4 separate regions of the Homo sapiens genome follow, and regions 1, 2 and 4 are each linked to region 3. Evidence: fine-mapped expression QTL. A gene starts in region 3. Each other region holds a variant in brackets. All regions are shown on one strand. Distances are from middle to middle. Region 1 has its middle 3.7 kb from the start of SEC61A2. Region 2 overlaps CDC123 (cell division cycle 123). Region 3 holds the start of CDC123 (cell division cycle 123). Region 4 holds the start of LOC124902579 (small nucleolar RNA U13).

What was found. PIP is the estimated chance that this variant, and not a neighbour inherited with it, causes the effect.
Region 1: its variant is fine-mapped to the expression of CDC123 in whole blood (TOPMed, PIP above 0.99).
Region 2: its variant is fine-mapped to the expression of CDC123 in whole blood (TOPMed, PIP above 0.99).
Region 4: its variant is fine-mapped to the expression of CDC123 in testis (GTEx, PIP 0.94).

What each region holds. Positions count from the first base shown.
Region 1 is chr10:12,123,484-12,128,483 of GRCh38, reverse strand. No RefSeq gene overlaps it. Among named protein-coding and RNA genes, the nearest start is that of SEC61A2, 3.7 kb to the left of the region's middle. The variant C/T (reference allele first, on the strand shown) is at 3,004.
Region 2 is chr10:12,246,247-12,251,491 of GRCh38, reverse strand. CDC123 (cell division cycle 123) reads right to left here. Exons shown (of 13, transcript NM_006023.3): 11 at 5,215-5,245; 12 at 1,774-1,911; 13 at 903-1,181. The coding sequence ends at 1,155. Among named protein-coding and RNA genes, the nearest start is that of CDC123, 53 kb to the right of the region's middle. The variant G/A (reference allele first, on the strand shown) is at 2,889.
Region 3 is chr10:12,193,757-12,198,756 of GRCh38, reverse strand. It overlaps CDC123 (cell division cycle 123), which reads right to left and starts at 2,569. Exons shown (of 13, transcript NM_006023.3): 1 at 2,438-2,569; 2 at 1-52. The coding sequence starts at 2,511. It overlaps NUDT5 (nudix hydrolase 5), which reads left to right and starts at 2,866. Exons shown (of 10, transcript NM_014142.4): 1 at 2,866-2,987. RefSeq lists an enhancer at 2,553-2,822.
Region 4 is chr10:12,143,751-12,148,750 of GRCh38, reverse strand. The region is part of intron 4 of SEC61A2 (SEC61 translocon subunit alpha 2); the gene reads right to left. LOC124902579 (small nucleolar RNA U13) reads right to left here and starts at 3,088; the gene lies at 2,985-3,088. The variant G/A (reference allele first, on the strand shown) is at 2,280.

The sequences.
Region 1 (5,000 bases), 70 kb after region 3:
AGCAATCCAGCTGTCTCAGCCTCCCCAAGTGCTGGGATTACAGGCATGGGCCACCAAAACCGGCCTCAATAATCTGTTCTAATGTTCAGATCTATGTTCATGAAATAAATTATATATTTCAGGGGGGCGTGCAATTTAGGTCCAGCTTGCATGAGTCTCTGCTGTACTTGAGGTCAGCTGGGACAGCCCCAGGGCTGGGGACTGGAATGATCAGGTGGCTCCCTCATTCCCCAGTCTGGCATTGGGTGCTGGTGTCAGCTCCAGCACCTCCAGATGGCTTCTCCAAGCGGCCTGGGCTTCCTCACAGCGTGGCAGCTGGGGTCCAAGGGATGTCCTCAGAACTGAACCAGCATCTTTTACTGCATTGTGTCTGTAGGGGCAGCCACAAGTCCTAGGGACACCACCTCTAGGGGAGATTGTGGCAAGATTCTGGAAGAACATGTGGGATTCAAAATACCGCTGTGGGAATTTTTGGAAAATCCAATCTGCCACAGTAATAATCTCCCATCCTGTTAATTCATCCTTACCTCACTCTACTTTGTATTAGTCATTTTTATACTTGCCTAATCTCCCCTGATATGCAGTAAACTTCTAGATAGAGTGGTCGTTCTTACTTTTTCTACTATGTACAATAGCCTACAAAATGATTGACTTAAGTGCAGTTTTGACACTCAATTATGAGCTAATTTCATGAATGCAATATCCTTTCAATAAAGATGCACTAAATTCCAGCCTGGGCAACACAGTGAGACCACGTCTCTATGAAAGGTAAAAAAAACAAAAATCAGCCGGGCATGGTGGTTTGCGCCTGTTTTCCCAGCTTTTCAGGAGGCCTCAGGAGGCTGGCTTGAGCCCTGGAGGTAGACGTTGCAGTGAGCTCAGATCGCACCACTGTACTCCAGCAAGCGGCGGGGGGTGGGGGGGGGCAGGGGGAAGATGCACTAAATTGAAAATATCACAGAAGGTGAAGAGTATCCTGTGCCTCTTTTTACTGCCTATTTCTGGGATAGTTCCATGGTTCAAGAGCCTGGGAATGAGCTTTGACACTCTGGATAAACTTTGTGAATTACCCTTCCACCATTCTTTTTTTTCTCTTTGAGACAGAGTCTCGCTCTGTCACTGGGCTGGAGTGCAGTGGCCAATCTCAACTCACTGCAACCTCCACCTCCCAGGTTCCAGTGATTCTCATGCCTCAGCCTCCTGAGCAGCTCAGATTACAGGCACATGCCACCCTGCCTGGCTAAGTTTGTATTTTTAGTAGAGACGGGGTTTCACCATGTTGGCCAGGCTGGTCTTGAACTGCTGACCTCAAGTGATCTGCCTGCCTTAGCCTCCCAAAGTGCTGGGATTACACATGAGCCACTGCTCCTGGCCCCTTCCACCATTCTTTCTACCACTACATGCCATGCCACCTAGGGCTTTTCCTTGTTTAACTGCAATGTGCCACCTAATCTACATCCATCCAGACTCTCAAGTCTACCTCCTTGATCTTTCATTGTTTTAGCACATCCAACAAGAAAATGTCTCTATGTATTAAATGCTTTGTCTTCTCAAATAGATTGTTAGCCCATTGAGGACAGTGGGCAACCCATTTTATCTTTTACTTCTGTGTATTTCTAAGGTCCATAAAAATGTAATATAGGGACTATATGTCCAATAAAGTATTTATTGATGAAATACCATTTTACTCTTAAAAGGTCATTTCTGGTGTTCAGTTCAATTTTAGCTGGATCCCCATATGAGTCAAAGAAAACAGGGACACGACACTAAAGTAATATAAATACTTTTTTTTTTTCTTGAGACAGGGTCTCACTCTGTCACCCAGGCTGAAGTGAAGTGGCACTGTATCGGCTCATTGCAACCTATGCCTCCCCAGTTCAAGCACTCTGCCTTCCTTATCCTCCCAAAGAGCTGGGATTACAGGCATGGGCCACTGTGCGCCCTGTTTAATTTTTTATGTATTATTATTTTTCACAGTATGGATCTCACTCTGTCACCCAAGCTGGAGTGCAGTGGTGAGATCATAGCTCACTGCAGCCTCAAAGTCCTTGGCGCAAAGGATCTTCTCACCTAAGCCTCTGGAGTTGCTGGGACTACAGGTACACGCCACTGGTCTGACTTAAATAATTTTTAAAAATTAGACTGGGTGTGGTGGCTCATGCCTGTAATCCCAGCACTTTGGGAGGACAAGGCGGGAAAATCATTTAAGGCCAGGAGTTTGTGACCAGCCTGGGCAATATAGCAAGACGTCGTCTCTACAAGAAAAAAAATTTGTTTAATTAGCAGGGCATAGTGGCAGGCACGTTACTTCTAGCTACTTGGGAGGCTGAGATGGGACGATCACTTGAGCCCAGGAATTCGCGGCTGCAGTGAGCCGTAATCGTGCCAGTGCACTCCAGCCTGGGGGACAGAGTGAGACTCCGTCTCTAAATAAATAAATAAATAAATAAAATTGCAATTAGCAGTGAGGAAAGGAGTCTGCTTTAGATTGTGCTTTATCAGATTTAAATAAAATGACAATGAATTACTATTTCTATAGAGTAAGAGCTTTTGGGGTTTTTTAATTGATGAATGCTAGATGTACATACTTTCAAGGTGCATGTGATAATTTAATACATTCATATAATTTGTAAATATCAAATTGGTGTATTTGGGATATCCATCACCTTAAATATTTGTCTTTTCTTTATGATAGAACCATTTGAATTCTCCTCTAGCTATTTCACAATGTATAGTAGATATTGTAAACTATGGTCACCTACTGATTAAACTATGGTCACCTACCGATCCATCTAACAGTAGGTCTTATTTCTTCTATCCAACCATATATTTGTACCCATTAATCTACTTCTTTTCATCACCCCACCCCTTCCCCTCCCGACCTCTGATACCACCGATCTACTCTCTATCTTCATGAGATCCACTTTTTTTTTTTTTTTTTTGAGATGGAGTCTTGCTCTTGTCACCTTGGCTGGAGTGAAATGGCATGATCTCAGCTCACTG[C/T]AACCTCTGCCTCCTGGGTTCAAGCAATTCTCCTGCCTCAGCCTCCCCAGTAGCTGGGATTTACAGGCATCCGCTACCACGCCCGGCTAATTTTTTGTATTTTTAGTAGAGACAGGGTTTCACCCTCTTGGCCAGGCTGGTCTCAAACTCCTGAGCTCAGGTGATCCACCCGCCTTGGCCTCCCAAGGGGCTGGGATTACAGGCATGAGCTACCGCGCCTGGCCAAAATCCACTTTTTAAGCTCCCATGTGAGTGAGAATATCCAAGTTTTGTCTTTCTGTGCTTGACTTACTTCACGTAACATGATGACTTCCAGTTCCATCCATGTTGCTACAAATGACAAGATTTTATTTTTTTTAAATGGCTGAATAATATTCCATGGTGTATATGTAACTTATTTTCTTTAATATCCAAATACATATAAGAAAAATGTAGGTGAAGCTTTTGGAACCTAAAGACTCAACAGTCTTGATCCTTAATCTGTGACTTCCTTCCAGTGTAATCTTTTTTTTTTTTTTTTTGGGCGGGGTAACCCTTTCATTTCTTCAATTTTGTAAAAGGGCCAGGTGTGGTGGCTCACGCCTGTAATCTCAGCACTTTAAGAGGCCAAAGCGGCCTAACGCTGACACAGAATCACTTGAACTAGAAAGGCGGAGGTTGCAGTGAGCCAGGATCGCACCACTGCCCTCCAGCCTGGGCCACAGAGCGAGATTTGGTCTCAAAAGAAAAAAAGAAAACCTTAGTAACTTTATACTTGTATCTTATTTATATCTATTATTTATATCTATCTATGCCATTTTAATGTTCAATGAGGACTAAACCTTAAATTGGGTATTCAAGAAGTAGAAATAGTAGCAACCATGGAAAAATGTTAGTTTTGTCTGAAATGACAAATTATTCTTAGTAAAATAAAAAATTTTTTAGTGAGAATAATAACTATTTTGCTTAGCTTTTCTGTGTCTTGCATACACATGCTATTTGGGAAAAATACTATGAAGCTTAGACATCTTTAGACTGACTATATTACCTTTGAAATTTTATTATTTTTTAATAATTCCTTGGTTGACAATAAAAATACTATCCCTTTTACACTTTTTTTTTTTTTTTTTGAGATGGAGTCTTGCTCTGTTGCCCATGCTGGAGTAGTTCAAGTGATTTCCTGCCTCAGCCTCTCAAGTAGCTGGGACTACAAGCATGCGCAACAACGCCTGGCTGATCTTTGTATTTTTTAGTAGAAACAGGCTTTCACCAGGTTGGCCACACTGGTCTCAAACTCCTGACCTCAGGTGATCTGCCCACCTTAGCCTCCCAAAGTGCCGGGATTACAAGCATGAGCCACCACGCCTGGCCTACTAAATTTTTAAGGGAAAAAAAGTAATGAGTATTTGATTTGGAATTCCTCAAATGGTCCCTCCCTGCAAGGGAATGTAAAATGCTGATCCATGTTGCAGTAGTGATTGAGAGTAGAAAGGTTAAGCCAACAGAAGACACATTTCATGACTCGAGTTAGAGAAGACATAAAAAGAAACCATGAACAGACTGTGAGGTGTAAAATTAGAAATTTGGAGAGATCCACCAGTCACAGTGGCTCACGCCTGTAAACCCAGCACTTTGGGAGGCCAAGGTGGGCGGATCATGAGGTCAGGAGATCAAGGCCATCCTAGCTAACATGGTGAAACGCCATCTCTGCTAAAAATACAAAAAACTGGCTGTGGCACGTACCTGTAGTCCCAGCTACTCGGGAGGCTGAGGCAGGAAAATCTTTTGAACCCAGGAGGTGGAGGTTGCAGTGAGCTGAGATCGCACCACTCCAGCCTGGGCGACAAAGTGAGACTCTGTCTCAAAAGAAATTCGGAGAGATTTAAAGTAACCTTTTATTTTTTGAGACAGAGTCCCGCTCTGTCACCCAGGCTGGAGTACAGTGGTGCAATCTCGGCTCACTGCAACCTCCGCCTCCCGAGATCAAGTGATTCTCCTGCCTCAGCCTCCCAAGTAGC
Region 2 (5,245 bases), 53 kb before region 3:
AGGCCAGACACAGTGGCTCACACCTGTAATCCTAGCAGTTTGGAAGGCTGACGCAGGAGGATTGCTTAAGGCCAGGAGTTTGAGATCAGTATGGGCAACACAGGGAAACCCCATCTCTACTACTTAAAAAAAAGAAAAAAAGGGCATCTGATGTACTGAATACAAAGATCAAGTACTGAGGACGAAGATTACCACCGGATACCACGTCGGGCAGGTACCCTGGGAAATTGTGATGTCTGTATCCTTCAAATTGCTTGGTGATGTCAACTAATACAGAAAGAGCTCTTAGTAGAATGTCTGGCACATCATAAAGCCTCGGTAAATTAGGCACAATTGATATCATCACTTAAAAATGGTGGCCTTTTAAAAACGCCACATGGCAAAACCCCATCTCTACAAAAAAATACAAAAATCAGCTGGGCGTGGTGGTGTGCACCTGTAGTCCCAGTTACTCAGGAGGCTGAGGCAGGACTGCCTGAGTCCAGGAGATTGAGGCTGCAGTGAGCTGTGATTGTGCCACTGCACCCCAGACTGGGCAACAGAACAAGACTGTCCCTAAACAAAACAGGGCGGGCGTGGTGGCTCACACCTATAATCCCAGCACTTTGGGAGGCCAAGGTGGGCAAATCACTTGAGGATCAGGAGTTCCAGACCAGCCTGGCCAACACGGTGAGACCCTACCTCTACTAAAAATATAAAACTCAGCTGGGTGTGGTGGCATGCACCTGTAATCCCAGCTACTTGGGAGCCTGAGGCAGGAGAATCGCTTGAACCAGGAGGTGGAGGTTGCAGTGAGCCGAGATCGCACCAGTGCACTCCAGCATGGGCGACACAGCGAGACTGTCTCAAAAAATTAAAATTAAAATAAATAAATAAAATAATGACTCGGTAGAAAAGCAACGTATTTCATAGAAAGCATTTTATTATCAGAACAGTATGGTTTTCCTATGTTTAAGATCTATTTATTATGTTATTTTTACAAGTAGCAAAGTCCCTCCGTTTTTTTCCCCAGGTGAATGTACATGAATATAAAAAGTGGCTGATGTCCACACTGCTCGGCCCACCCGCATCAGGGTCGGCAGGAAGTTGCGGCTGATGAGCAGCTCCCGGAGCGGTGGGGCGGGGCCTCCTCTTCTCCAGTTCCAGTACGCTCATCAGTCGTCCTCCTGCTGATTTCTCTTCTGTCAAAGAAAACCAAGGGGATGTTAAAATAGCACATGCTCCTTGGGATATCTGCTCAGCAGGTGTAATTTTCTAGAGGTCTTGGCAAAGGATGTAATTAAAAATTGTCATGGAAAACCATGCTTTAATTCATTAAACTAGTTTATCACTTTGACTCCTGAGCAAATTATCCTCAGGTATTTGAGTATTTTCTTCTCTTTCTTCCATACATACAAAAACTCCTACACAGAAATCCACACAAAAATATAAATATTCACATCCCCTCTTGAGTAAAATCACCACCAGAGCAGAGACCTGCTCTCCTTACAGCCTTCTAACAATATACACACTTTCTTCAAAGTTACAAGTATTTTGAAAAATGTTCAAAAGGCATGTACAGCATAAAAACATTTTCTGTCATTCTAATCAATAAATTATGCCTTCAGCTCCTATTTCATATTTAATTAGAAAATGCTCTAACTCAGTAACTTGGTTCCATTCATAACCATCAAAGTCTAGGTGATACAGGATTCCAATGAAATATTATATAAAAGCCAATTTGAAGGTCTATTTGAAAAGATGGCCAGCATACTAAATGCACATAGACTTTACCAGCTTAAGGAAGTCTATTAGCTTGTGAGCGTCCTCCCCAGTAGAGAGGTCTACAAAGTCCTTGGGTAGCCGGTAACTCAAATAGGGGCTGGGCTGGACTGTCACTTCACTGTTTGTGCAACGGAAAGCTGGGGAATCCTGTACAAAGAAGAAAAAGGAGAAAGAATATCAATCATTTATTTTTAGGCCTATTCTGTGAACTAAAAAAGAACCTAGCAAAACAATTTCAACTCCATGTTTTCCTCTGTACTTGATGAGGAGAAAGGAAGATGCTTAAGTTAAAATGAGCCGGGCACGGTGGCTCACGTCTGTAATTCCAGCTGGAGTGCAGTGGCTCACTGCAGCCTCGACCTCCTGGGCTCAGGTGAACCTCGCACTTCAGCCTCCCAAGTAGCTGGGACTATAGGCATGCGCCACCACGCCCAGCTGAGTTTTTTAAATTTTAGTACAGAAAATATCTCAGTATGTTGCCCAGGCTGGTCTTGAACTCCTGAGCTGAAGCAATCCTCCTGCCTTGGCCTCCCAAAGTGTTAAGATTATAGGCTAGGTGGGCTGTTGCACCCATGCCAAACTATTTTTTTTTTTTTTTTTGAGGCAAAGTCTCGCTCTGTTCTCAGACTGGAGTGCAGGGGCACGATCTCTGTTGCCCAGGTCTCTGTTGCTCACTGCAACCTCTGCCTCCCAGGTTCAAGTGATTCTCCCACCTCAGCTTCCCAAGTAGCTGGGACTACAGGCGCGCGTCACCACGTCCGGCTAATTTTTGTATTTTTAGTAGAGATAGGGATTTCACTATGTTGGCCAGGCTGGTCTCAAACTCCTGACCTCAGGTGATCTGCCTGCCTCGGCCTCCCAAAGTGCTGGGATTACAGGCATGAACCACCATGCCCAGCTGCCAAAACTAATTTTTTTTTTTTAGACGAAGTTTTACTCTTGTTGCCCAGGCTGGATGCAATGGAGCAATCTCAGCTCATCGCAACCTCCACCTCCCAGGTTCAAGCGATTCTCCTGCCTCAGCCTCCCGAGTGGCTGGGATTACAGGCATGCACCACCATGCCTGGCTAATTTTTTTACTTTTAGTAGAGACGGGGTTTCTCCACGTTGATCAGGATGGTCTC[G/A]AACTCCCAACCTCAGGTGATCCACCTGCCTCAGCCTCCCAAAGTACTGGGATTACAGGTGTGAGCCACCGCACCTGGCCTGTTTTTTTTTTGAGACGGAGTCCCGCTCTGTCACCCAGGCTGGAGTGCAATGGCGTGATCTTGGCTCACTGCTGCAACATCCGCCTTCCAGGTTCAAGCAATTCTCCTGCCTCAGCCTCCCAAGTAGCTGGGATTACAGGCATCTGCCACCATGCCCAGCTAATTTTTTGTATTTTTAGTAGAGACGGGGTTTCACCATGTTGGCCAGGCTGGTCTCGAACTCCTGACCTCAGGTGATCCACCAGCCTCGGCCTCCCAAAGTGCTGGGATTACAGGTGTGAGCCACTACGTCTGGCCCAAAACTATTTTTTAAAAGATATAAAATGCTCACAAGAGAACACTGTGAAAATCTCAGGACATGTAATTGAGTATGTAGTATGATTTCATTTATTTACAAAGGTCTATGCATGTGTTTAAATGCACGTTATGTATCAAAATATAAACACTGGTTCTCAAGGTTCTCAAATCATAAGTGATTTTATAATTTTCTTTAAGAATGAGCACGTTACTTTTTTTTTTTTGAGACAGTCTTGCCCTGTCGCCCAGGCTGGAGTGCAGTGGCACAATCTCGGCTCACTGCAAGCTCTGCCTCCCGGATTCATGCCATTCTCCTGCCGCAGCCTCCCAAGTAGCTGGGACTACAGGCGCCCGCCACCACGCCCGGCTAATTTTTTTTTTGTATTTTTAGTAGAGACAGGTTTTCACCGTGTTAGCCAGGATGGTCTCGATACCCTGACTTCCTGATCCGCCCGTCTTGGACATGTTACTTTTATGGGCAGAAAACAGCACTACAAAGTTGTTTCAGGAAAGTCTGGCTGTGAAGCTGGCAGGAAAGGAGAGAGTGGCTGGGTGAAGAAACCGGGTTGAACAATGTTTTGTTTTTTTCGGATGGGAGGTATCTGAGCATGACTAAATCCGGATGGACAGAGTTGATAGAGAGGAAGAATTGCAAAAAGAGCAGAGGGCATCTGGAGAAAGAGGAGGAGGACACAGTGTCCTGAGGGGGAGGTAAGAGAGGAGGACACAGTGTCCTGAGGGGGAGGTGAGAGAGGGGGACACGGTGTCCTGAGGGGGAGGTGAGAGAGGAGGACACAGTGTCCGGAGTGGGAGGTGAGAGAGGAGGACACAGTGTCCAGAGTGGGAGGTGCGAGAAGAGGACAGTGTCCTTAGGGGGAGGTGAGAGAGGAGGACACAGTGTCCTGAGGGGGAGGTGAGAGAGGAGGACACAGTGTCCGGAGTGGGAGGTGAGAGAGGAGGACAGTGTCCTGAGGGGGAGGTGAGAGAGAGGAGGACACAGTGTCCAGAGTGGGAGGTGAGAGAGGAGGACAGTGTCCTGAGGGGGAGGTGAGAGAGGGGGACACGGTGCCCTGAGGGGGAGGTGAGAGAGAGGAGGACACAGTGTCTGGAGTGGGAGGTGAGAGAGGAGGACAGTGTCCTGAGGGGGAGGTGAGAGAGAGGAGGACACAGTGTCCGGAGTGGGCGGTGAGAGAGGAGGACACAGTGTCCAGAGTGGGAGGTGAGAGAGGAGGACAGTGTCCTGAGGGGGAGGTGAGAGAGAGGAGGACACAGTGTCCTGAGGGGGAGGTGAGAGAGGAAGACACAGTGTACTGAGGGGGGAGGTGACAGAGGAGGACACAGTGTCCAGAGTGGGGAGATGACAGAGGGGGACACAAGTGTATGGAGGGGGGAGATTAGACTCAGGAAGGGACGGACAAGCTTGTAGGTGTGATGAGAAATCAACTGAGGGAATTCTCATCAGTGGGTTCCCTTTTCCGGGAAACAGCAAGTTAAATCATCTGCTGAGAGGAAGGAAGGAATGATGGGAGACTGAGAAGCATCAAGGCGTGAGCCAGTCACCGTGGAAATGGAGGAGAAAGCTGACAGGAATCCGCTGGGCTGCACGTGTGTAACTTCTCTGTCGGCCTCAGCAGCTGGGGCTGGGGTCAGAAGGAACAGATGCATGAGCTGATCTGGGACCAAGATTCCTCCAGGTGGGTGTGACAGAAGAAGCTCAGAAAAAGAACTAAAAAAACTGATCAGATGATCCTGACTTCTGTATATAAAGTTAAGTGGGGCCCCCTTCTTTGACCACCACCATGGGCAGGTTAGCTATTAGTAAAGCTGTGTTACACTCTGCGCTTCCCAAGGGTCCTGGCCATTGCCGCCTACCTATGCGTCTGAAGAACAAGCAGTCAGTCAGTAGACTGGAAAGGTTTACATTGTATCTGTCTTAAAAATGTTGTACCTGCTCTTGAGCGTCAACTTCACTAAAATCG
Region 3 (5,000 bases):
TCCATCATCGAGTAAATAATCCTTCACATTCTGAGGAAGTGGAAGAATGACACTAAAAAAAAAACACCAAAAAAGGCATCATTTTAAAAGACCAACTATAAGCAGAGAGAAAAATCTCTACACTTGATTAATTTTGGAATTGTCTTTCTTTTAATATAAAGTAGAAAATGTTAATGATGTACATTTGGTAGCAGTAGACAAGAAATCAGAATAATAAGATTACTGCGGTTCATCTTATTGCCACAATGGTCTTTGTAGTAAACAAAAACCAGCCAAATCCAAACCACCAGATGGAAATCACAGTATGAAAGCAACAAGCTCAAAAGGATTCTGAGTGAGCACAACATTTATGTGTCTTTAAGAAATCAGAGACCAGCAGATATTTGCTGCAACACAGGAAATGCAGCAAACCCAACTAGAAGATGACTAGCATTTGGTCACCTTCTAAAGATAGAGGGCAGAAGTAGAGTCAAGATCTGGAAACCATTCTTGGGTTGGCAGTGAGCACCTACCGCTAAGAATTCATGATACTTTTGGATGTGTCTTGCTGGCTTTCTATTCAACTGATCACCAGAGATATAAAGCTGCTTAAACTAGGCATGCTTTAGCTTAATTTGTTTCAGGTAATCATAATTAAGGATGGCAAAGCCATACCTGAAGTCTCTTAAAAACTTATGGGATAATTTGTTTTTTACCTTGAAATAATAAATTATCAAAAAGCCCTACCACAGATCCCTAAGAGTGCTGGTATTATTTTGATTTTGAGGCATATACATCTTCAAAAAGTGGAAAAGATTACAGCCTGCTTTCCCGAAGTTAACAGAACATCAATGACTTATAACATGTCTCATTTATTTATGGAAGAAGTTTTTTTTGGCACATTACAAATGGTTTTTTTGCACAAAAAAGAGTATTCATGGGCTACTTCGGTTTTAAAAATAAGTATTTTTATTTATTTTTAAATAAATAAAAGATCACTGCCACTGCACTCCAGCTTGGGCGACAGAGCAAAAACTTCGGTTTTAAAAATAAATATTTGATTTATCAAAGGTACAATTTCACATTCAAAAATCTAGTTCTGGCCGGGCGCGGTGGCTCACACCTGTAATCCCAGCACTTTGGGAGGCCGAGGCGGGCGGATCACGAGGTCAGGCAATCGAGACCATCCTGGCTAACACGGTGAAAACCCCGCCTCTACTAAAAATACAAAAAATTAGCCGGGGGTGGTGGCGGGCGCCTGTAGTCCCAGCTACTCAGGAAGCTGAGGCAGGAGAATGGCGTGAACTCGGGAAGGGAAGCTTGCAGTGAGCCAAGATCGCTGCCACTGCACTCCAGCTTGGGCGACAGAACAAAACTCTGTCTCAAAAAAAAAAAATCTAGTTCTTCAGGCTTTTAATTTCTTCTAACAAATCTTATTACGTTTGAAAATCTACTAAATTTTAAACAATTTCAAGCGAAACTTTGCAACTTAAAAGTCTCTTTAAAATTTTAAATTCTATTCATAAACCACTCAATTTTCTTTCTTAATATGTCTATTTGCTGATTACAAATAAGCCTTCCTAAGTATTTTACTCTTACAAAGCTAACAAGCGAAATTGTTAAGTACAATGAATCTAAGGTTCTACCACACATTCCAATACTATTTAAGAACTTGAAACTTTTCTTATACATTTTAACCATTCTAAGCCAGTTACACATTTTCAAGTACATATCCGATCTTTATTGAATGAAACCATCATATAATGAATCAGCAATTACTGAAATGTTGGCTCAGAAAATCAGTTAAGTGCAAAGCCCAGATTTTCTATCAACGCCTTTAAAAAAACTGAGAGATGAAATTGTATATATTAATACTTGCCGCCTACCTGATGTTTTTAAGTATATATACACTGTGGAATAAATTTAGCTAACAAATGCATTGCCTAACATAGTTATTTTTGTGGTGAGAACACTAACATCCACTCTCCGTTTTTCAAGAATACGTATATCGTCATTAACTATAGCCTCCATGCTGTACGACATATCTGTGAACTTGTTCTCGTATCTAACTGTAATTACGTATCCTTTCACCTTCCCAATCTCCATCCTCTGGGGTGATGGCGAAAAGCAATTAATTCTCCGAGTGCACTTAGGCAGTGATCACCTTGCGCCTGGGGCCATTCTAAAAGTAGTGGTGGTGAACTCCCAAGCCTAAACTAGGTTAATCCACTATTCCTCCCGCCTCCGACCCTCACTGAAAACCACAACTGACCCTCCTAGCCAGCACACTCGCTGGCTCGCAACAGGACGCAGACAATTGCTGATGTACTTCCCTCTCGACACACTCCCTCCCATGCAGTCGCTAGAAGGCCTGCATTTTTTTGGATAGCAGTAAGATTCGCTCAGAAGTCGCAGTTCCCTTTTGCCGGTCGACCGGGCGAACCCCCTCCCATCTCACCTCTTGATGGTAACGCCTCGGAAGAACGGGTACCACGCGGAGAACTGGCAGTGAAGCACATGCTCCTTCTTCATCCTCCAGCTGCCGCCGCTGCTGCCTTTCCCTCTCCTGCCTGCACCCTCCCGGAACTCTGGGCGCCGGCCCCGGAAGTGCCCGCCGAGCTATTTTGGTTCAAGGACTCTTCCGGTCCCTAAAGCAAGAAGGAAGACCGAGAAAAGGAAGCGGAGGAGAATCCCGGGGCATACGCTTGACACACACGCATACAAAAAGAGCTTTAGTCTCGAAAGAGGAATTACCGAAGTGTCGAGAGAGGAATTTTAAGAAGTTTACAACTCCGTCTTCGCCCTAAACGCACGCTGACCCGGAAAGTAATCTCCTGAAGCTAGGTCAAAGGCGGGGGTTCTACGGATGCCGGAAGGAGGGTGCGCGCCCATCCTTTTAGCACCGCGAGAGGCGCCGGTGTTTCGAGCCGTGGCACCGGCATCGGCTGACACTGCTGCCTCCAGCTAGTTATTTCGTCCTCTTCCGTTCTTCACCCCTACACCTTGGAGTAAGTAACCGGGGCAAGCCAGTCACAGCACAAAACCTCTTTGGGGAGGAGAAGAAGAAGGGGAAAGGGACCACATCTGCATGGTGCGTGCAGCCGCGCGGTGTCTCCCAGGCTGCGGCTGGGCACGCGTCCAGGCGCCCAAGAGGGAAACTGGGGATTGGAGGGAAATTGTGGATTGGAGAGGAAGAGCCTGGGCTACTCCGAGTAAAGAAAGCGGGGAACACCACAGCTAAGTGTTAGTTCCAGTGTAAAGATTGCAGCATCTGCAGAGGAGTAGAATGCTTGGTAGAGGGAATACCGCCTGTACGATCCTGGAGGGTTCGACTTTGGGAGGTAAAAGGCGAGAGGTAAATGTGAGAAAGCAGAGGAAAGAGGAGTCTCCTTGGAGCGCTGAATTCGTTTAGTCTGGCCTCGCAAAAGTTGTCAACCTGGAAAAAACGCAGATTTTTATCAGTATTCCTGCGATGATCGAATCATAAGACTGGAAGAATTCGAATCGAACTTGTACTATCGTTTTTTCCTTTGCTTCACTCCTGTCACCCAGCAAAGTTCAGTTTTGTTTGTTTCGTTAAAAGAATGAGAAGTAACTAGCTGCTTTTATTTATTTATTTGAGACGGAGTCTCACTCTGTGCCCAGATTGGAGTGCAGTGGCGCAATCTTGGCTCACTGCAACCTCCGCCTCCTGGGTTTAAGTGATTCTCCTGCCTTAGCTTCTCGAGTAGCTGAGAGCGCGCGCGCGCCACTACGCCGGCTAATTTTTGTGTTTTTAGTAGAGACGGCGTTTCACCATATTTGCCAGGCTGGTCTCGAACTCCTAACCTTAGGTGATCTGCCCGCCTCAGCCTCCCAAAGTGCTGGGTTTACAAGGCGTGAGCCACGGCCCCGGGCCTACCAACCAGCCGCTTTTAACCCCTAGTCGTGTCGCTTACCACACGAGCTTTAGGCTTGCGCGAGGCATCTGCGTCTAAAAGTATCTCCTTAAATGTACATTCTTCCTGGTTCACCTAAGTAGTTTTAAATTAGAAACAGCCCCACCGACTGCAGGCCTCTTCAGAAGGGTGTTCCTTAGAATAATAAACAATTATCTGCGTATTTTGAGTTAGAAACTCTTCCCCCCAGGAATATATACATTGTTTTGGGTTGTGTTTTGTTTTTCTCAAAAATGTTACTGGCTAAGTGGCTAGTTGGAAGCAGTGCTTTAAAGAATACATTTTCAAAGCAGAGGTAAATAGATTATAATGTTGCAGAGTATGTTGGTGGGGATGGACAGTCATGATTCATCATTTATGCCTTGATCCGGAACTATGCAGTCCTTTCTGATTTGAGGGAAAGAAGCAATATTGTATATATGTCTGGAGGGTGGTGCCAGAAAGACTTAATGGCAGACAGGAGCAGTCGCTCAAATAATTGTTTTGATTTGACTTAGAAAGTAAAAAATTGCGCGGAAGGAGATGTTAGCATCGATGGGGGATTTATTTAGGTCAGATGTTTTCTAATGAAGATAGGAATGAATGTACGGAAGAGAATAGATCCCGGGAACATAGCCCTTCTGCGAGGAGCAGTACTTTAACAGCCCAAGAAACATTTGAGCATAGGCCGGGCGCGGTGCCTCATGCCTGTGATCCCAGCACTCTGGGAGGCCGAGGCGGGCGCATCACCTGAGGTCAGGAGTTTGACCAGCCTGTCCAACATGGCGAAACCCCGTCCCTACTAAAATATCAAAAATTAGCCGGGCGTGTTGGCGCATGCCTGTAGTCCCAGCTACTCGGGAGGCTGAGGCAGGAGAATCGCTTGAATCCGGGAGGCGGAGGTTGCGATGAGCCGAGATCGCGCCACTGCACTCCAGCCTGGCAACAGAGCGAGACTCTTTTTTTTCCGTCTCGGGAAAAAAAAAAAAAAGAGTGTAGAGATTAAGGCAGTTGCAAAGCTTTAATATAGAATTGCAGTTGTGTGTAGAAAAGCAGCTAAGTTTGTAAGCTTAAATATATAGATACTACAGGGAAGGAATTTTT
Region 4 (5,000 bases), 50 kb after region 3:
GGAGATTGAGACCATCCTGGCCGTCTCTACTGAAAATACAAAAATTGGCCAGGTGTGGTGGCGTGCGCCTGTAGTCCCAGCTACTCGGGAGGCTGAGGCAGGAGAATCCCTTGAACCGAGGAGTTGGAGGTTGCAGTGAACCAAGATCGCACCACTGCATTCCAACCTGGCGAAAGAGTGAGACTCCATCTCAAAGAAAAAAAAAAAGCCGGGTGTGGTGGCTCATACCTGTAATCCCAGCACTTTGGGAGGCCAAGGCGGGCAGATCACCTAAGGTCAGGAGTTCGAGACCAGCCTGACCAACATGGAAAAACCCCATTTCTAATAAAAATACAAAAGTATCCGGGCATGATGGTGCATGCCTGTAATCCCAGCTACTTGGGAGGCTGAGGCAGGTGAATTGCTTGAACCCGGGAGGTGGAGGTTGCGGTGAGCCAAGATCCCGCCATTGCACTCCAGCCTGGGCAACAAGAGCGAAATTCTGTCTTAAAAAAAAAAAAAAAAAAAAAAATGGCCGGGCATGGTGGCTCACGCCTGTAATCCCAGCACTTTGGGAGGACGAGGTGGGAGGATCATGAGGTCAGGAGTTTGAGACCAGCCTGGCCAATATGGTGAAACCCCGTCTCTACTAAAAATACAAAAATTAGCTGGGCATGGTGGTGGGCGCCTGTAGTCCCAGCTACTCGGGAAGCTGAGGCAGAAGACTCACTTGAACCTGGGAGGCAGAGGTTGCAGTGAGCCGAGATCGTGCCACTGCACTTACTTCAGCCTGGGTGACAGAGCGAGACTCTGTCTCAAAAAAAAAAAAAAAGATATTAGATAGATTTCTTAAGTTAGATCACCAAAATTTATTATTGCAAATAGCTCTAGTCCAGAAATAGACTTAATCAAGCTTTAATGAATATTTGATATAAGAAATATGGCATTTCAAATCAGTAGAGAAAAAAATGGACCTTGGCAAAAAAATTGGCCATTTTTAGGAAATTAAACCTAGATTCCTTACCTCATGCCTCATGCCTCACATCAAAACAAATGCTACATGTATAGAAATTTTTTTTTTTTTTTTTTTAGACAGAGTCTCACTGTCACCCAGGCTGGAGTACAATGGCACGATCTTGGCTCACTGCAACCTCCACCTCCTGGATTCAAGCGATTCTCCTGCCTCAGCCTCCCGAGTACCTGAGATTACTGGCGTAAGCCACCATGCCCAGCTAATTTCTGTATTTTTGGTAGAGATGGGGTTTCACTACATTGGCCAGTCAGGTCTCAAATTCCTGACCTCAAGTAATCTGCCCTCCTCGGCCTCCCAAAGTGCAGGGATTACAGGCATGAGCCACTGTGCCCAGCCTCCATGTATAGAAAATTTAAACATAAAGGATAAATGACAAAAATACTAGAAGGAAATATGGGTGAGTAGCTTATCATCTTGGGCAAGAAAGTCTTTCTAAGCATGGCAAAAAATCTAGAAGCCACAAAGGAAAAGATGGAAGATATGATTAGATACAACTACAAAACTTCCACGTGGCAAAAGGCAGCATAATGGTTAAAATAAAACTATTAAGGCAGACATGGTGGCTCACGCCTGTCATCCCAACACTTTAGGAAGCTGAGGCAGGCAGATCACTTGAGGCCAGGAGTTTGAGAGCAGCCTAGGCAACAAAGTGAGATGCTGTCTCTACAAAAAATTAAAATACTAGTCAGACATGGTGGTGCCCGGTTGTGGTCCCAGCTACATGGGAGGCTAAGGCAGGAGTATCACTTGGCCCAAGAGGTCAAGGCTGCAGTGAGCTGTTTGCACCACTGCACTCCAGCCTGGGCAACAGAGCAAGAGCCTGTCCCAAAAGAATAAAAAAAAATTAAACACAAATGACAAAAAGTTCTTATCTCTCATGTGCAAAGAGCTCTTACAAATCAATTAAAAAGTGAACAAACTGGCTGGGCGCGGTGGCTCACACCTGTAATCCCAGCACTTTGGGAGGCTGAGGCGGGCGGATCACAAGGTCAGGAGATCAAGACCATCCTGGCTAACATGGTGAAACCCCACCTGTACTAAAAAATACAAAAAATTAGCAGGGCGTGGTGGCGGGCACCTGTAGTCCCAGCTACTCAGGAGGCTGAGGCAGGAGAATGGTGTGAACCCGGGAGGCGGAGCTTGCAGTGAGCTGACATCGCGCCACTGCACTCCAGCCTGGGTGACAGAGCGAGACTCCGTCTCAAAAAAAATAAAACAAAAAAAAAAGGAAAAAAACAATTTAAAAAGGAAACAGCAGATACATGAT[G/A]TGTCTGCTCCTGCTGAAGCTTTCTCAGGAAAATGCAGCACAGGAGTAGGCCCCCAGCATCCAAACCTGTACTGTGCAACCCTGGAACTCTAACTGAAGCTGATCCTGCCTGGTGAGAACCCTGGGCATCTGGAATTTTAAACAAATAATCTGGGGCCAGGCACAGTGACTCAAACCTGTAATCCCAGCACTTTGGGAGGCCAAGGTGGGTGGATCACCTGAGGTCAGGAATTCACCAGCCTGGCCAATATGGTGAAACCCCATCTCTACTAAAAATAAAAAAATTAGTGGCGCATGGTGGCTTGTGCCTGTAATCCCAGCTATTCAGGAGGCTGAGGCAGGAAAATCGCTTGAACCTGAGAAGTGGAGGTTGCAGTGAGCCAAGATCGCACCATTGCACTCCAGCCTGGGCAACAAGAGCGAAATTTGGTTTAAAAAAATAAAATAAAATAAAATAAATCTGGGAGTGTGGAGCTGAATCGCACAGAGAATGGAAAATGTTCACCAATCCCTGCTGCTGAGGCCTAAGGGCTGGCCTTGCTCCCCTTCTTCCTGGGGCTTAGCTGTTCATCTCCACTGTAGATTCCAAAAAATAACCAGTATCCTTCCAGCAAGTATCATGTTTCTGTTTAAGCTAGTCAGTGATTTCCTATTCCTTAATTTTTCTCCTTTATTTAAAACAATGTTTTTTCTTTTTTCTTTTCATGTCAGATGGGTAATGTTCCAACATCCTAACAAGGCTGGAGAGAGGCACATCTCACACACGAGCGTGAAGATCCAATCATCACATCTACGGACTACGAAAGCATCTAGTTTCCTATTACTTACAACAAAAGGAATCTAACACACTAATAAAACTCCACTTATAGAAGAAATACAAATGTTCCATAAAAACAGAAAACAATGTTCAAACTCACCAATCTATAAAGAAATCAAAATTAAATAACTGATGCCAGCTTTTACCTCTCTGACTAACAAAGACTAAAATACTAATAATATCCACTGTTGAAAGAGAAATGGTCATTCTCATATACTGTCGCTGAGAGTGTAAAATCAAACAACTGTTTTGGAAGATAATTTAGCTTTCTCTATCAAAAATTTCAGTATGCCTATCTTGTGACCCAACAGTTGAACTTCTAGAAATTCATTCTATCAAAAAGTTACAGAACGGTGTGATAGCCTTCATTGTAGCATTCTTTATAATGATATAAAATCGGGGGGAAAAAAACGTAATATATGACAAGAAAGGAACCTAGTGGCCTGCAGAAGTTTCCCATCTTCCTTAAAATGTGCTCCATCCAACGGTCTCCAAGCCCTTCATGATCTGACTTAGATACATCTGCAACATCAGGTCCCATCACTCCTCCCTCTTCTTTCATTTCTTCCACCCCACACTCACCTCCTCAATGTTCCTTTTTTTTTTGAGACAGGGTCTGGTTGTGTCGCCCCGGCTAGAGTGCAGTGGCGTGATCTCGGCTCACTGCAATCTCTTCCTCCCAGGCTCAAGCCATCCTCCCACCTCAGCCTCCCAAGTAGCTGGGACCACAGTACACACGACCACACCTGGCTAATTTTTGTGATTTTAGTAGAGATGGGGTCTCACTTTGTTGCCTAGGCTGGTCTGGACTCCTGACCTCAAGTGATCTTCCCGCTTCAGCCTCCCAAAGTGTTGGGATCACAGGCATGAGCCCCTGCGCCTGGCCCCTCCTCAATGATCTTTGAACACACCAAGCACAGGCTCACCTCAGGGCCTTTGCACTGGCTCTTCCCTAGAATATGCCTCCCTCAGGTCTTCATGTGGCCTCCTCTCTCACTTCCTGCAGCTGTCTTCAAAGATCACCTTCCTAGAGCACCTTCCCCACCCCAGGTACCTCCCCAAACAGCAAATATCAACTCCATGACAACTGGGACATTGTCTTGTTCACTGCTCTAATCTCGGCACCTTGCACAAAGGCTGACACACAATATGAACTCAGTAAGTATTTGTTGAATGAATGATCAAATAAATCACAGCGTATCCTTATAATGGAATAATAACATGGCCATTAATAGCTCATGTAAGATATTAAGTAAACAAAGTAGCAGAATAGTATATACAGGACATCTTACTTTTCAGTTATAAGAAGTATATAGATATATGTAAGTGAATGTATGTGCAAAGAAAAGGCCTCAATTGATAGTCACCAATCTACCAAATCCTCCAGAGCTCCCCTCAGAAGTGACACTTTTCTTTTCAGCTTCATATAAATCTGTATATAAATTGCTAGTGCATTTTTAAAATAATAAATCAATATTACCTTTATAACCTAAAAACATCAAAAAAAAATCTGCCATCGATTTAAAGTATGTCCAGGCTGGGTGCAGTGGCTCACACCTGTAATCCCAGCACTTTGAGGGAGGATGGCATGAACCCAGGAGTTCAAGACCAGCCTAGGCAACATGGCAAAACCTCACCTCTACAAAACTACAAAAATTAGCCAGGCATTGTGGCACGCACCAGTAGTCCCAGCTACTCAGGAGGCTGAAGTGGGAGGATCGCCTGAAAAAAGTGTTTCCAAAAAAGAGGCAACCACTGTTCCTAAATGTAAGAAACCTCACGACTGGTTGTACCCCTTGCTACTCTCACTGTCCAGCATCCTCAGCCACAATTTCCCAGATGAACAATGCTGCTTGAGGCTTCAGGCTCAGCTCCAGCTGAGCTCCCCGATTGGCTCACACACT